Regions from separate parts of the Homo sapiens genome. Here region 1 is linked to region 2. A link means that fine-mapping ties the variant in region 2 to the expression of a gene that starts in the linked region. Tissue or cell type: whole blood. Region 2 holds a variant in brackets; the other region holds the start of a gene. All regions are shown on one strand. Distances are from middle to middle.

Region 1 (8,181 bases), 32 kb before region 2:
GTCAGCTCTTGTGAGCCTGTCAGCTGGTCCCGGCATGGCAAACCACAGTCCATGACCTGGAAGCATACCTTCCTGTTGTGAAATTCCTTAGCCATTCATGCGACCCTGTCCCACAGTGACCACTCACCACATTTTGCTATGAGTGATAGTCATTTCTGTGCAAGTCTGCACTCAACTCCAGAAAAGCATCCTCACACAGGGAAAATCATGGCTTAAAATTCCAGCCCTACACTCCCAGCTCTGTGACTGGTAACCCTGTTACTTACCAAGCCAAGTAACTGGTAACCCTGCCACCTACCAAGTGTTGGGACACTTATCAAATGTTCAGAGCCTCAGTTTCCTCATCTATTAATGACAGCAGCAATGTAAATCAGTACAGCCCTTAAGGAAGACCGTATAGAAGTTCCCAAAAAAATTAAACACACAACTACCTTATGAGCCAAAAATTCCACTTCTGGGTAATGTACCCAAAAGAACTGAAAGTGGGGTCTTAAAGAGATATTTGTACACCTGTGTTCACAGCAGCATTATTCACAATACCCAAAAGGTGGAAGCAAACTAGTTTTAGCTATTCCACCATCTATACATATATTAAAACCTCATATGATACATCATAAATATATACAATTTTTGTTGATTTAAAAATTAATTTAAAATTTTTTTTTTTTTTTTTTTTTTTAAAGAGCAGCAACAATGGCAACCCTGCCCCACAGGGCTGTTGCAAGAATTAAATGAGTGTGTTAGTAGTTTTCACACTGCTATAAAGAACTGCTGGAGACTAGCTAATTTATAAAGGAAAGAGGTTTAATGGACTCACAGTTCCGCATGGCTGGGGAGGCCTCAGGAAACTTACAATCATGGCAGAGGGTGAAGGGGAAGCAAGGACCTTCCTCATATGGCGGCAGGGGAGAGGAGAGAAATGCCGTGAAGGAGAAACTTCCAAACACTTTTAAAACCGGCCGGGTGTGGTGGCTCACACCTGTAATCCCAGCACATTGGGAGGCCAAGGCGGGTGGATTACCTGAGGTCAGGAGTTCAAGACCAGCCTGACCAACATGGTGAAACCCCATCTCTACTAAAAATACAAAAATTAGCCAGGCGTGGTGGCGGGCGCCTGTAATCCCAGCTACTTGGGAGGCTGAGGCAGGATGATCACTTGAACCCGGGAGGCAGAGGTTGCAGTAAGCTGAGATTGTGCCATTGCACTCCAGCCTGGGCAACAGAGTGAGACCCCGTCTCAAAAAAAAAAATGCCATTGGCTGTCATGAGAACTCCCTTACCATCATGAGAACAGCATAGGGAAAACCACCTCCATGATCCAATCACCTCTCATCAGGTCCTTCCCTTGACATGTGGGGATTACAATTTGGGTGGGGACATAGAGCCAAACCATATCAATGAGGTAACAATGAAAGTGCATTGCATAACAGTCCCTGGCACATTGTAGAGGTTTATAAATGTTAATTTTCTCCACTCCTTAGGCTTTAAACACTTTAGAAGTCATATTACAATTCATTTTTTAATTACCCTGAGTGTCAAAAACACTACCTTTGTAACTTGTTCAAAAATATGTAATCGCTCAAAAATATTGTTGTTAACCTATCCACTGGAAATATGAGGGGGTTGACAGTAAGGGGAGGGAGCAGGGAGGGATGAGCCCAGAACCTGCGGGGGAAGTGGGGATGGGCTGGGAAGAAACAAGGGGGTCTGGGAAGAAACAAGAGAGGCAAGGAGCACAGGGAAATGGTGCTGCCTACGCCCAAGATCCCCGGAGGAGCTTGGAGGGTCTCTTTGGCATCTCCCTCCCTCAGGCCTTCTTACCTCCACTGGGTGCACACTTACTATTGCTTACTTTTTAATTCTGGCTGCGGCTGAGCAAGACACCAGTGTCCTGGGACACCAACCGCCTTCTGGGTGGCAATAATGACAGCAGCAGCTATTTCAACTGCAGCTGCTAACGGTATTTCCATATACTTAATCCCACAGGGCAGAAGTTGGCAGTAGTGTCCAGCAGCAGAAAAAAATGCTAACTGGGAATGCTGGGCTTAAGGAGTTTAGTACAGAAATGGCAAATACCCCACAATTTCTGACCTTTGTCGTCTAATAGGATACCTATCAACTAAACCCTACCTAAAACCTAAAATGCTTGAAATCCGCCTAGAAGCTTCAGTCTGATTTTGCCCATAGGTCAAATGTTAATGAACTATTATTTTCTTCCATTTCTGCTCCTCATCTTTAATCTAAAAACCACGGAGTCATGGAATGGGAAAGGCCTAGAGCTCCACTTGCTCTAGTTCTCTTTTCAAAAACCATAGCCAGAAAGCCACGAGGAAATGCAGACTTACAAACAAAATCGATTTGTTCCAAACTGGTGTGCTCTGGGGGCCTGGCCCCTCTGGGAACCCAGGACTCAGGCTCCCATGCCAGGTGTTTTGTCACTTGGCAGCCTCCTTGGACACGTCAGAGTCAGGGAGCTGGGCTTCTCGAAAGAAGTCCACTCCATCTATGGGCAGCATGCATAGCAGGGGCAATCCGCCTTAGCAAACCGCTCAGTGTTTCCTCCTAGTCAGGGATTCTCAACAGGTTTAGGGGAGGGGTAGGATGGAGGTAGGTTTTATCAGAATCACATCATTTGCACTATAGTTTGAAAGATGTAACATAAAGCTGCTGCTTTAGTACCAGCTGCCATATTTCCTTTTCTTGGAGGTTTCTAATAAATCTAAAGGAGGGTGATCTATTAAGTTTTGCAAAATGGCCTGAGGTTCCAAGAGGTAGGAGAGCCGCTGCTGACTTCAACTTCTCCGTATAGCTGAAGATGACCTCTTGAAGCCTGCAGATCCCAAATCCGGGATCTCTCTTAATGTGGCATCACACACATCTGTGTGTACCTGTCTTTTTTTCCTCCATGGGACCAGCTCTCTCCAGATCCAATGACAAGCTTCCGATTATCTGTGGATCTTCTGATACATCTCCTTGCTTGTAATCATCATTCAGTAAATGCTTTTTAAACACAGGTACCTCCTATGCAATCAGTACAGCACTCATAAAACAGATATACTCAACAAAAAGATTGAATGAAACACACACGACAACATGGTCAGGGTTTTTCTCTAGGCAGAGACAGCGCAATTTCATCTTTTCTTTTCCAAGTCTATCCTAAATTAATATACTTAGCACTGCTTTTTAAAATAATAATAAAAGACTATTATTAAAACAAAGGCACCCCAGTTGATCATAGCCAAGGAAAAAAAACGCAGCCAGTTTTTACTTCGGCAAGGTTTAGGGGATTTATCATTTTCGCTGCCGATATTCTAACTAAAAAAAGCCAACTAAACAGCCCAGAGAACGAGGCAACTTTCTGAGGCAGGCATTCAACTTCTAAGGCTCGGCCAAGTTTAGCAAATAAGTTTCGTTTCACTGCAACACCGGAATGCCCACCGCGTGCCCCCCTCCGGGCGGGGCTCGGAAACTGGCCACTGCAGTCGTGCCCTTGGGTTGGGGACGCACCTCAGCGAAACGAATCCAGCCGCACCTCCCGGCTGGCACCCGCGCGCTTTAACTCAGGGAAAACAGACCGGAACGCGCATGCGCCGCGGCGCGCCGCACCGCCCACCAGCCCTCCAGGTCACATTCTTCGAAAACCAAGGCAAGAAAGGCGGCAACTGCGCCTGCGGGTAGAGAAGCCGGAGGGGCGGGGGCGGAGCCGGAGGAAGGGGGTGGAGGCGCGCCTGCGCGGTGATCCCGCCAGCAGGAAGCAGGCGCGCGGGGGCGGGGGCGCGCGGCGGCAGGAGGCGGGGCTCTCGGGGCCGCTGCCGCCGCCGCCGCCGCGCATTGTGCAGCAGGCGGGCCCCCGCGCGGTAGGGCCCTGGACCCGCGCGGCTCCCGGGGATGGTGAGCAAGGCGCTGCTGCGCCTCGTGTCTGCCGTCAACCGCAGGAGGATGAAGCTGCTGCTGGGCATCGCCTTGCTGGCCTACGTCGCCTGTGAGTGCGCGCCCGCTGCCAGCTGGGGAGCCCCATTCATTCCCCGGCGCCGCGGTGGGCCGGGCGGCGGTGGTTCGGGGCCCCGAGGCGGCCCTGCAGCCCCGCGTTGCTCCCCGCCCCGGGCGGGGCCGGCGCTTTCTGCTCCCACCCCTTTCCACTCTTGCAGCAAAGCGGGCCAACTTGGGCGCACACCCCCTACCGCTTAGGCCCGGGCGCGGACCCCGGGCGGAGGGGCCCCTAGCAGTCCTCGGGCGGCCCCAGGTCTCTGCCTCCTGCCCGGGCGCGGGGGACTCGGCGGCGGCGCTGTCGTCCATGTCGCGCTGGGAGCCGGCGAGGGTCCCGGTCGGGGACTCCGGAGCGTGCCGCGTGGGGATACCCTTGGGGACAGCCGAGGTCGCGCCGCGGTGTCGGTTAAGTCGGATAAAAATACTGTGGCCATTGGCAGAGCCCCCGCTCCGACTGTTTGCTCCTCAGGAAAATTACTCAGCGTTTAACTCTTGGGGAGCCAAGTGTGGGCGGCTCCCCGGCCCGCGGCCGTGCCCAGGTGTCGGGGCGCACCGGCATCCCCATTCTAGGTTTTCCCCCGGGGCTCGGCGGCCGGGCGAAGCAGGCAGGCAGCTGGGTGGCCGGGCAGGGCGTGCCTGCAGCTTCTCTGTGCGCGGGTCCAGTTTCTGTCATCGCTCACAGCATGCTGCCTGGAGACAGGGCAGGAGGGGCACTTCGCAGGCAGGTGGTCGGCCCTCTGCTTGTTAGGGAAGTCAGAAACCGTCCTTTTAAAGATCTATTCGTTGGGAATGTTTTAATTGATGCTATTAATACGTTACCAAGTAGCAAAATTGGACTAGAAATAGCTCCCAGTGTGAGCTGCGTTTGAATGCTAGCCACCCAGACACACACTGAAATGAAATCACCTGCTAACCTGTTGGCGTTACCAAGATCTGATTCCAGAGGTGAGTGGGTACTTCACTTGTCTGAAGTGACTTCAGTTGAGCTCTAGGAAGGCAAGTATGAGTAGATCCAGCCTGTGTGCTACAGCCCAGCTGTTCAGGAGGTGGAGCTGGAAAACCCCAGCAGGACTCCGGGTTGCTAGGGGAGGTTTCAGGCGTCGGATGGGTGTTAGATGTGTGTAGTTTTGCAAGGGAGGAAGAACTAGTCTAAAGTGTGTGTGTGGTCAATCTTGAGTAAGAAAGCTGAGACCCAAGAGGAAAGACCATTTAAAGTTGAATAACTATTATTATGGCAGTAATACTACCTACATTTGTTGAGTGCTTAACTGTGTGAGTCATGATTCTTAGTGCCATTGTCTCAATCATTGAGCAACCCTGGGAAATCGGTACTATAATGATTCCTATTTTAGAGGTGAGGAAGTTAAGGCCAAGAGAGATTAGGAAATTTATGGATGATCACACAGATAGTAAGAGAAGGAGGGCCAAAATTTGAACCCAGAAAGGCCTGGGAGCAGGAGCTAGAACCCAGGTCTTCGAACAGCAGTTTCAATGTTTATTTTGGGGGTATTCTATAGTCGCTGCAAGGGTTTAGAATTAATAAAGTAGGGGATTTATGGAGCCATGGGAAGTTTTTTTTTTTTTTTTGAGACGGAGTCTCGCTCTGTTCAGCCCAGGCTGGAGTGCAGGGGCGCGATCTCGGCTCACTGCACGCTCCACCTCCCGGGTTCACGCCATTCTCCTGCCTCAGCCTCCCAAGTAACTGGGACTACAGGCACCCGCCACCACGCCCGGCTAATTTTTTGTATTTTTAGTAGAGACGGGGTTTCACCATGTTAGCCAGGATGGTCTCGATCTCCTGACCTCGTGATCCGCCTGCCTCGGCCTCCCAAAGTGCTGGGATTACAGGCGTAAGCCACCGCTCCCAGCAGGAAAGTTTTTTAACCAATCATTCATCTGACCAGGAAATCTTACCAAGTCCTTACTGTTGTCCCTGAATTTGGCACTAGGAGACACCATGGGGTGCTAAAACTTAACTGGTCTGTGCTGTGATGGTACAGACCCTATACCACATAGTGTAGCACGTTGATTCTCAGACTTAAGCATGCATCAGAATCAGTAGGGTTTTTTTTAAAAAACACAGACTGCTTGTCTCCCACCTCAAGTTTCTGATTCAGTTGGTCTGGGATGTGGCCTGAGAATCTGCATCACTAATAGGTTGTTCTGTATGCTGTTGCTGTGACCTGACACCACTTTGAGACCCACTGGCCAAGATGGTGAGGTGGGCATGAATTGGAAATGAAGGTTAAATTACAAACTGGTGTGAGGAAAAGGAATGCATGAGAACTATGCCAGGAACTCCTGAGTGAGAGCAATCAGGTACGTTTGTTTTGTTGAGGAATCAAAAGTGAGCTGAGAATGGACGGCTTATGTAGGAGTTAACAGGGAAGTCATAGGAGAGAGCGTGTTCTAGGAGGAGCAGTGTGTGCAGAGGTCCTGCGGCAGCCAAGAGCAGGCAGTATTCTAGGAATGCAAAGAAGGATGGTATTGTTGGAGTGTGAAAACAAAATTACAGCCATGAGGCTGCCCAGGCAGACAGGGGCCAGAGCAGGCAAGCAGGCAGGCAGGCCTGGGGTGCAGCCCACGACATGGTTGATTTTAGCTATGAGGGGTTTAACACAGGGTGGAGGCAGTGTTAATAAGGAGCAGGTATGCTAAGTCTGAGCCACTCTGCAGGGAAAAATGTTACAGGGCTTGTGATTGATAACACCGAAGGACACTGAAAATGTAGTCCCTCAACCGTGATGTCTGTGTTTTCTAATCTCTGCTTTTCCTAATTAGTAATCTTGCCCTCCCTGTTACAAGTAAAATCTCACCACTGTTTGAAAAAACTGTCCATACTTCCCAATTATATACACCCTCACTGTTAGCCAGCCTCCGTTGCAGAAATGCCCTCCCTGTTTCGGGAACAGAACTCAAGTTCTGTTAGCCTTTCTCCTTCTCCTCCTTACATCTTTCCCAAAGTCTTTGTTACCTACTCTGGCCCTGAGTCTCCTCCTTGATACCACATAACTCTTCTTCATGTCTTAGGGTTGACCACCTGCTAACTTGCATTGTACTTGAGTTCTTTCCCATTCATATGTTGGCTTTTTTTTCTCAATGAAATCCCGATTCTGAGGACAGGGATTGTGTCTTATGTGTTTCAGCCCTTGAAACATTTATAGCAGTGCTAATGGCTCATTGAAAGAACTCAGTTTCTGCCCTTTGTGCTGAATCAAAAATCAGGCCAACCTACTAGGTAGCTCCTGGGCAGACTGCTTGAATTACCTTTAACGTATTTTTTTTTAACATGCATATAGTGTAAAAAGTTAAATAGCTTCTGCAGGGCCAAACAGTATCCCCTGCCACCATTTCCCTCTCCCCAGAAGCAGGCACTTCATTTCTTTTTTTTTTTTTTTTGATACAGAGTTTCGCTTTTGTTGCCCAGGCTGGAGTGCAGTGGCGTGATTTCGGCTCACTGCAACCTTGGCCTCTTGGGTTCAAGCGATTCTCCTGCCTCAGCCTCCTGAGTAGCTGGGATTACAGGCATGCGCCACCACGCCCGGCTAATTTTGTATTTTTAGTAGAGACGGTTTCTCCATGTTGGTCAGGCTGGTCTCAAACTCCTGACCTCAGGTGATCTGCCTACCTCAGCCTCCCAAAGTGCTAGGATTGCAGGCGTGAGCCACCGCACCCAACCCCTAGGCATTTCACTTCTTTTAGTTGATTATTTTGGTATTTATCATTGTGCCATTGAATCACCTGGCTTCCTGATTTTTCAGTTGTAGATATTACCTAGTGACTTTGTTCTTTGGGAGATGATTTTTTTCTTCTCTTTGCCCCTGTACATGCTCTCCACCCTCCTATATAGATGTGGTATAATCTCACGGAGCTCATCATGCAGTGTTTACAAGCATGACTATGTAAATGCTGTTCCTAGTGAGTCATGTTGTAGGTTACTTTTTGTTTTCTCCAGCGAATAATTGGCTGGTGTTCTAATTTGCTTGCTTTCTATGTAGTATGACAGATCCAACTCCAAACTCTTTGCCAGTTGTCTGTCGCGTCTTCCCCCATGATGTTCATGAGCATCAGGATGCCCCTTGGTCAGCACCCCTTCCTGAAGAAGGGCCCCGGGGCCTTCTACTGCAACTTGTGGATACATCTGAGGGTCAGCTGCCAGCCTCACCACCTGCACCCACATCAGCCTGGACCTAC
Region 2 (8,181 bases):
AGAAGGGAGCTGTCTTCGGGAAGCCATGGCAGGCCCATGACCTCAGGGGGCCAGCTAGTGGGTATCGATGCAGAGACCACCTATTTAGTCCAGCGTTAGGCCTGTATGCATCGTGTGTGCTTCTTCATAGGGCAGGAGGCACTCTTGTAAAAATAAAACTCGTGTTATCTCTTTACCAAATAAAAAAAAATAGCCTTTAAAAAAATCAGCAAAAAGAAATAAGCACTTATTGTAAAAACCATTTGGTACTGTTAATAGTTTTCCATGTAAAGGAAAATTTGCTCCACTTGGTTATGTTGTGAGAATCACTATTGTGATGATTAGGTTGGTATTGTAATGTAATGCGGCTGCACATGTCTACCAGGGTAAAAGGTTACTATGCCCTCAGGAGGCTTTTCATGTGGAGTTGGGTTTTGCAAGGTGGGTGGGATGGTGTCGATTTGATTCCTACCACCAGGGCATGTGTGTGTCTCCTGACAAAGGCTGCTGTGTATGACTAGGTGGGGTGCTCAGATCCCTTTTAAAGGAGCTCTGTGGTTTTACTTAAAAGACTCCATTTTTACATTAAATCCCCAGGAAAGCCCAGCAGGCACAAACACATACTCCTACAGACGCACTTCCTGCTTCAAATTTAAAATCCTGTGTTGGATGTAGCATAGCAGTGAGATTATTTTAGTTTAGTGGAAATAATCCATTAGGTAATACTGAGCATGTTCACAGATGGATTTAAGGGGAGTCCTTCCCTTTGGTTGTCTTCTTTTCCTCTGGTGCATCCCTTCTGGAGGGAATTGTACACATGACTGATACTTGAGCAGGAGACAGAGGTGGTCTGCATCCGTTGGGTTATGTTAGGGTAATTTATTCAGAAACAGTCTTAAAGTCACAAAGCCTTTCAGTTGATCTCAGTTTTATAGCTTTCTACTCAACAGGTCTATCCAGGAAAATGGTGAACTAAAAATTGAAAGCAAGATTGAAGAGGTTAGTCTTTTTTCTATTTTTGTATCTATTTCATCTGTATACTTGTCAATTTTACTTCCTTTGCTCGTGCTGTCATTCTTATTGTGGCAGCTTGATGCTGTTCTGTGATTTTGCAACCGTGTCTCAAAAAATTACTCCCTTATTTAAGAGGACATGCAGTCTGTTACTGTTGGTCCATTTTTGATGTATTAAAACAAATTCTACCTCAAAGGCAAAATGGATTTAGACTTTTACATGACTTTTCAGGTAAGCGTTTTTTAGAGAAAGGGAAGTGATTGCCTTTGGGAGATAGAGATGAGTACAAACATCCTCTCACTGGCACAGGTGCTGAAAAGAACAATGGCCACCAATCGGATGCTAGGCCACGTGCACAGATGGAGACGTTGCACACCCACCCAGCTGAAGGCTAGCACCTATGCTCAGTTATGCACCTCCTATTTAAATACATGTAGATACAGCCAGACCGTTGTAACATGGGCTGTGGGGGAGGGGATGGGAGGTTACTTACTTTGGATTTGAAGCCAACTTAGGGAGTCCTGGGAAGCCCTTGAGTTGCTGTCTTTCTGCCTGAGTCCACAGTGTCTACAGACGTGGATGTAGGTTGACTCACAGCCTGCAATTTATGTGCTGCAGCTGATAACATGAGTATACACAGTAATTGCAGAAACAAGATGTTAAGCTTTTGTGGGCCATGCTTAGGGGATTGTTCCTAAAAAGAGATGGATAGTGTTGATCTGTTTTTATGAGCCTGAAACACCTTTTACATTCTTCCTAGTAGGATGGGTGAGCAAAAACATTAATTGTCTCAGAAACCGAGGCATTTATGGAGTAAGAGTTCAAATGGACAGTTTATCTGTTCAATTCTAGCATTGTGATGCAAGTGGTGTATCTTAATTTCAAACTGGAAGTTAATTTGTAGAAGAAATTAAAACCTGTTTTGCCTTATCTGAAACATCAGAATGGGGTGAAAGGGGTTGAGAACTGTGTTTTTGCTTTAAAACTGATTTTTGTTATTATTGTTCTAGATGGTTGAACCACTAAGAGAGAAAATCAGAGATTTAGAAAAAAGGTATGTGTACTTTTTGTCTTAAAGTCAATAGTTAAAATAAGTTTGTCTCAATTGAGTAATTAATTCTGTTTGTTTGCTCCAAACTCTGCCAACCTAAATAAATGTCTGTATACGCATTTCCCCCACTTTGAGTGTAATACCCAGATAGAACATGGGGAGAAGAATCAATCTAGATGTGTTAAGATCTTCCTTCTTCAAACTCTGAACGTCTGAATTTCTGCAAATTTATTACATAGAAGTTGAGGCCAGGCCTCACATTTTCCTTGAACTTCTGCATATATTGATCAGTGGGATAGAATTCCAAAATAGGAGGACAATCCAGTGGGCCTGAAATGTACCATATGCAAACACCACAAAATAAGGATGTGGAGCCTATGGTGTGTCATGTGTAGTCATTTAGCTGCTTTTGTCACCAGAGTTCATGAGGAGGTTTCCAGAATTTAGTCCAGGTGAAGTGAGAGGGCAGAAGAATTATGTAATATGATAGAAATGTTTATTTGAGTCAGATTTCGGAGAGAACCCCTCCTCACCCTTTGGGACACTATTGCCCTCAGGTTCTCTCTCAGGCACTCCCGAGGCCGCTGAGCCTCAGCCTCCAGGACTTTCCTCTTGCACGTACTGTATGTGGAAAACTATCTAGAGTAGCAGTTGAATCTTCAGAAATTTTAGAAAGAAAAATGACAGCATTTATTAAAGTTGATGTGATTTTTTCCCCTTATTGGGATGAGTTTGGACGATGTGTGTCAGCATTGAATGAGCCTTTTATCAAGTCCAGAACAAAAATGAAAAAATGAAGAGCAGTTTTCCTTTGATTTTCATTAAATGATCGAAGGGAAATACGACTGGAGAAGAGTCATTAAACAAAATGTGTCATTCACTTGATTCTTATCCTCAACTGAGCAGTCAAGCAAACTGTTAATTTCAGCACTTATCAGAACAAAAGTTGTCAGTAATTTTTAACAGATTCCTTAGTAATATAAGGTTGTTACTTGTGCTTTAAATTTTTTTTGCCATGATTCTGTGCTTTAGTTATGCAGCTTGTAATATTTCCTTGGATGGGAGCCAGAAAATCTGCCTTTGATAAGACAGCAGAATTGAGAGATCTTAATTGAAGCTTTTTTTTTCTTTTTAGAAAAATTGGAACAATAAGAAATAACCCACCACACATTTTCTATATTGGTCTAAAAACTTGTCCACCAGTGATTATTTTCTTTAGACAATAGAATTTATTTATGAAAAGAAAAATGTCTCAATTCGATAACTTCCCTAAGGCAATAGCTTACAAACAAGAGCTCTCAACATGTGAGAATTATGCAATCTCTTTGATACTTTTGTGATATCTTTGAGTGTGTGCTTTTAAACTGGATGGAGAAGCACAAATAAGAATTCAATCCTAAGAATTTACTAATAATTTATTCTTGTCAACCTGTGAAACCGCCTTGAAAATAGTGGCAAAGGGCAAACATTTGCCTCTCGGGCTGCTTGCAGGTGACTCATTCTGGAATGGTTCCGTCCTTCAGGTTGGTCAGCAAGTCAGGTGATCCGCGTGCCTGCATTACTGTGTCAGAAGGTCAAGCGTAGGCCTGGCTAAAAAAGCGTGACGGTGGAAATTGATGGAACTCCGTCTAGCTTACTTTTCCTGACTCAGTGTGTGATAAAGATGATCAAACAACCATCTTGACACTGACAAGATAAGAATGTAACTGGAAATAGGTTTACTTGACGTGCTTGTCACTTTGAGCAAAGTGGCCCCCAAGAACTAAAGATATTTTTGGAAGTTACAGGTTATATTTGTACAGGGAAAGAAAGAAGACAGTGTCATTCTAGAATCCTGAGTAAATGGATTGTATGTGGGCTTTTTCTCTTTTACCACACTCCCATTGCTTAATACTTTGATTATATGCCATTTGTTTAATTTTAACTCTGTATCTTTAAATGTTCTTTGAATAGATGGCAAATGATAATTTAAATTCTAAGTAAGAATACTGCTTACTGGCTAAACAGTAAGTTTAATCTGGAATGGCATAAAATATTAATGATTAGTAAAGGACTAATTTGGGGTTGTAAGGAAAGATTTGTTACCTCATTCTGCCTCTGCTTGCTGGTTTCTCTCTCGCTTAGGAATGCAGGCCTCATGCCTCTGCTGCATTTTGCTGCTTAACCCCCAGTGCCTAGTGTAGAACGGAGCTTAATGGAAAGTTCCTGAATAAGTGGATGAGCCAGTACACTGGGTAGGATTTTCACCTGCTACAGGTCTTTAAGAAGCCTTGTGGGCCAGGCACGGTGTAATACCAGCACTTTGGGAAGCCTCGGCAGGCTGATGGCTTGAGCCCAGGAGTTCGAGCCCAGCCTGGGCAACATAATGAAACCTCATCTCTACAAGAAATACAAGGCTGCAGTGAGCTGTGATTATGCCGCTACACTCCATCTGGGGTGACAGAGTGTAAGACCTTGTCTCAAAAAAGGAAAAAAAAAAAAGGCCTTGTGCTCCTGCCCAGCCCTGAGTCAGTCCAGCAGGTGCTTGGGAGCACCCAGGCAGCTGGCTCAGCATGTGGCCCAGCCAACGGCACCCACATGGTCACTGCACTCTATCAGTCACTGTGCTCTGTCACCCATTACTGCAAGGAGGAAAACAGGATGACATGCATACTGAGGAGGACCCCACAGGCACTCTCCCCTTCCTGTTTTTCAGCTTTGTATGTGTGGCTTCTCGAAGAAGTGAGGAGT[A/G]TAAGATAGTTTTTTAAAAGTTTAATTACTTGAGCGTATACATATGAAATCTAAAACTTGGCTGCTACATATTGAAGAAGAACAAAGCAAGAAACTCAACCTATTTTTCGTTTTTTAAATTAAAGGTTTCAGCACGCTGCATTTGAAGTATTTTTTAGTCCATCTTATGCCCGTCACTGCGTATGTCGGGCAACCATGCCTTTGCTTCAGTTCAATTTCTTTGAAGTACATTTCCTGTAATAAAACGGTTTGGCCGTTTCCTCTTGGTATAAGTAGCACACCACATTTCATTTTAAGCTTTCAGATAGGGACTATTCTAAGCTGACAGCTTGGATTAACATTTGTTTCCATGGCCCCGGATGCACACTCCACAGTCCTGCGCCTCCGCTCCTCACTGAATTGGTTTTCTCCCTGCACCGCGTTTTCCCATATGTAGCTATATTCCCATTCCCGAGCGGTCTTGACTCTAAAATCATATACACGGTAGAGAAGGAGCCCTGAAGGTGAGTGAGGGGAAGTCATGAGTCAGAGACGGCTCCAGCGTTTTCACGACAGACAGTTCGGAGGAGCCACGGTGCTTATGAGCAGTCGTGGGAAGGAAAGAGTCTCAGCTGTGCCACGGCACTGGGTGTGCCACTTGGGGACTGAGGCTGAAGACATGGATATCGTGAGCTCAGAGAAATGAGGACAATTGGAGCGGTGTGAGAGGTGCACACAAATAACTCTGAGATTTACAGTGCCGTCCCCTAGCTGAGTTGGTGAGGGAAGAAGAGGCGGAATGACAAGAAGTGTTACTTGGCAAACAAGACATCTGTGCCGCTCCCGCCAGTCTAACAGCATCGCTCCTGACTGAAGGCAGAACTTGCTCCTGCTCCCCAGCTGCATGGATGACTTTCCTGAGGCACTTCCTATGGGCGGCAAGTACTAAAGACGGTCGGTGAGCTCACAAGGGGGAGCCCCAGGGTTCCCACCCTTGCCCTCAGACTCTCCCATCTGATTTTGTAGTCTGCAAGGGGAACTTGAGCTTTTGAGACCCTGGAAGTTCTTAATGGGGGAATTCGTCTGCATTGTAATAGAAAGCCCTTTCACTCCAATTTAAGCACGCTCAGGGCTTTCTGGAGATGAGAAACCCCTGCTTCAGGGGCTTCTGTCTAATGACCCTTCATATTCCCTTCAGTTCAGCGACCATTAAGGAAGTGCATTCTGTATCCTAGTGCTGTGTCTGTGCTGGGGACAGGGCAGGGATGGAGACGGTGCCACCTGGCACAACACCTTTCCAATTAGTATAATGACCATAAAGCTGATGTCTCAGATTTTATTTAAAGCACTTTTGTTCCTAACTGAATAACTTTTAAAATGAATATTTCAGTTCTGTGTTTATTACCTCTCACTGGACGTTTTATATTCAGATCACACTGCCCTGCTCCTGGGACATCAGTGTGGGCTGGGGACCAGTGGCACCTTAGGGCAGCAAGAGGGTATCAAAAGATAAGTGAGACTTAGGGTCAGAGCAGATCCACAGAGACAGAAGATGCTGATGCTCAGTCGTTTTACCAGGGACGCTGGTCAGGAAGAGGATGCCGTGATTGTGAAAATTCCTGGAGCAGGAGACAAAGTTTCATTAATATCTCTTCTCGCTCTTGTGGAGCGGTCCTCATGCGTTGGGCCTGTGACTTCACGAAGCTGCTTTCTTCCACCTGGACCCTGATACAGTACCCAGAGAATGCCATGATTATAGCCCGGTGGGCTCTTCTTGCCGACTGCCCTGAGAAAACCAAGGCACTGAGAACAACAGGTGTTACAGCGAAGAGAGAGTTTAATCACAGGGCCAGCCACGTGTGAGAATGGGCGAGGTTTCTCAAATCTGCCTCCCTGAGAACTCGGCGGCTTGAGTTTTTAAGGGTAGTTTGGTGGGTGGGGGCCTGGGGAGCTGAAACGATTGGCTGGGTGTGAAATCATGGGGGTGTCTAAACTGTCTTCAGGCAGCTGAATCAATTCATGGAAGCCAAGTCTGAGGACCGGGTGACATCTCTTAGTCTGTCTGCCAAAATGCTAAATCTGAAAGATACCTCAAATACCGTTTCCTTAGGATTCACAATAGTGATGTTATCTGTAGAAGTTGTTGGAGAAGTTACAAATCTTGCGACCTCTGTTTGAGTGACCCTGGGGCAGGAAGCAACATATAGAAAAGCCAGCTAAGCTAAGCAGTTGGCAGGTCATTGTTTATGCTTATTCTTTAGCAAAGTTCAGACCCTACCATAACTCTAACCTCGGCTTAGGAATGTGGCTTCAATCTCGAAACAAGGAGGGGGGTCAGTTTTCCTTGCCTCATCGTTTAACTATAAATTCCTCTCCTAGTTATATTGGCCTCTGCACTAAAATAAGCAAAAACAATAAAAACAAAAATTGAGCCTGTGAGGTTAGATGGAGCCAGTCATATTAGATTTCTCTCATTATTACAATTCTGCAAAGGCAGTTTCACGGCCATCTCCCTCATGGTGTGGTTTTATCTGGACTAATAGAGGTAGTGCCTGCCCTGCTTTAGCAGCTGCTGGAAGCCGGTAGCTCCTTGCGCTTTTGCTTCTCAGAGATAGAATCTCAAGTCACGTCTTTAGCTTGATTCTAAACAAGGAGCAGGTTATATAGCTCTTGACCTCAAGTTAACTAGTGACTCCTTGGTTTCTCCAGCACTCATTCAAGAGTGGAGAGAAGAGCAAACAATAACAGTCCCAAAACCTGGCACATGCTTTGATGGTAGACAGAGAAAATATTCAAATGAGATGTTTGACTTTTTCCTTTTGAATCTCTTTATATTATACAGCTTTACCCAGAAATACCCACCAGTAAAGTTTTTATCAGAAAAGGATCGGAAAAGAATTTTGGTAAGTTTGCACACCTGAATAGTATTTGTAATATTAAGAAACTTTCTTTTTTCGTTGAGAGATAATTCACATATCATAGAATTCACGCTTCTCAAAGATACGATTCAGTGGCTTATAGTATGTCCACAGAGTTAGCACCGCATTCTGATTCCACAGTTTCTTCATCACCCCAAAAAAGAGTCCTGTACTCATTAGTAGTCACTTCCATTTCCCAGTCCCCTCCCGCCAGCTCTGGGAAACCACTAAAACTACTCTCTATCTCTATGAATCTGCCTTTTTTGAACATTTCGTCTGAAAGAAATAATGTGATATTTGATCTGTCTTCAAGACTCAGCTGTAGCATCAATCAGTACACTTCATTCCTTTTCATGGCTAAACAATGCTCCATTGTATGGGTGTACCACATACTGTTTCCCTGTTTCTCAATTGATGGGTATTTGGAGTTGTTTCCACCTTGAGGCTATCGTGAATAATGCTGCTATGAATGCATGTGTGTAAGTTTTCGTGTGGACACAGGATTTTCAT

What was found. PIP is the estimated chance that this variant, and not a neighbour inherited with it, causes the effect.
Region 1: UXS1 starts here. The variant in region 2 is fine-mapped to the expression of UXS1 in whole blood (TOPMed, PIP above 0.99).

The regions. Positions count from the first base shown.
Region 1 is chr2:106,189,949-106,198,129 of GRCh38, reverse strand. It overlaps UXS1 (UDP-glucuronate decarboxylase 1), which reads left to right and starts at 3,829. Exons shown (of 15, transcript NM_001253875.2): 1 at 3,829-3,982. The coding sequence starts at 3,889. RefSeq lists a silencer at 3,747-4,356 and an enhancer at 4,687-4,736.
Region 2 is chr2:106,157,533-106,165,713 of GRCh38, reverse strand. UXS1 (UDP-glucuronate decarboxylase 1) reads left to right here. Exons shown (of 15, transcript NM_001253875.2): 3 at 915-978; 4 at 2,004-2,047; 5 at 7,596-7,656. Among named protein-coding and RNA genes, the nearest start is that of UXS1, 33 kb to the left of the region's middle. RefSeq lists enhancers at 124-643, 4,377-4,466, 4,477-4,536. The variant A/G (reference allele first, on the strand shown) is at 4,775.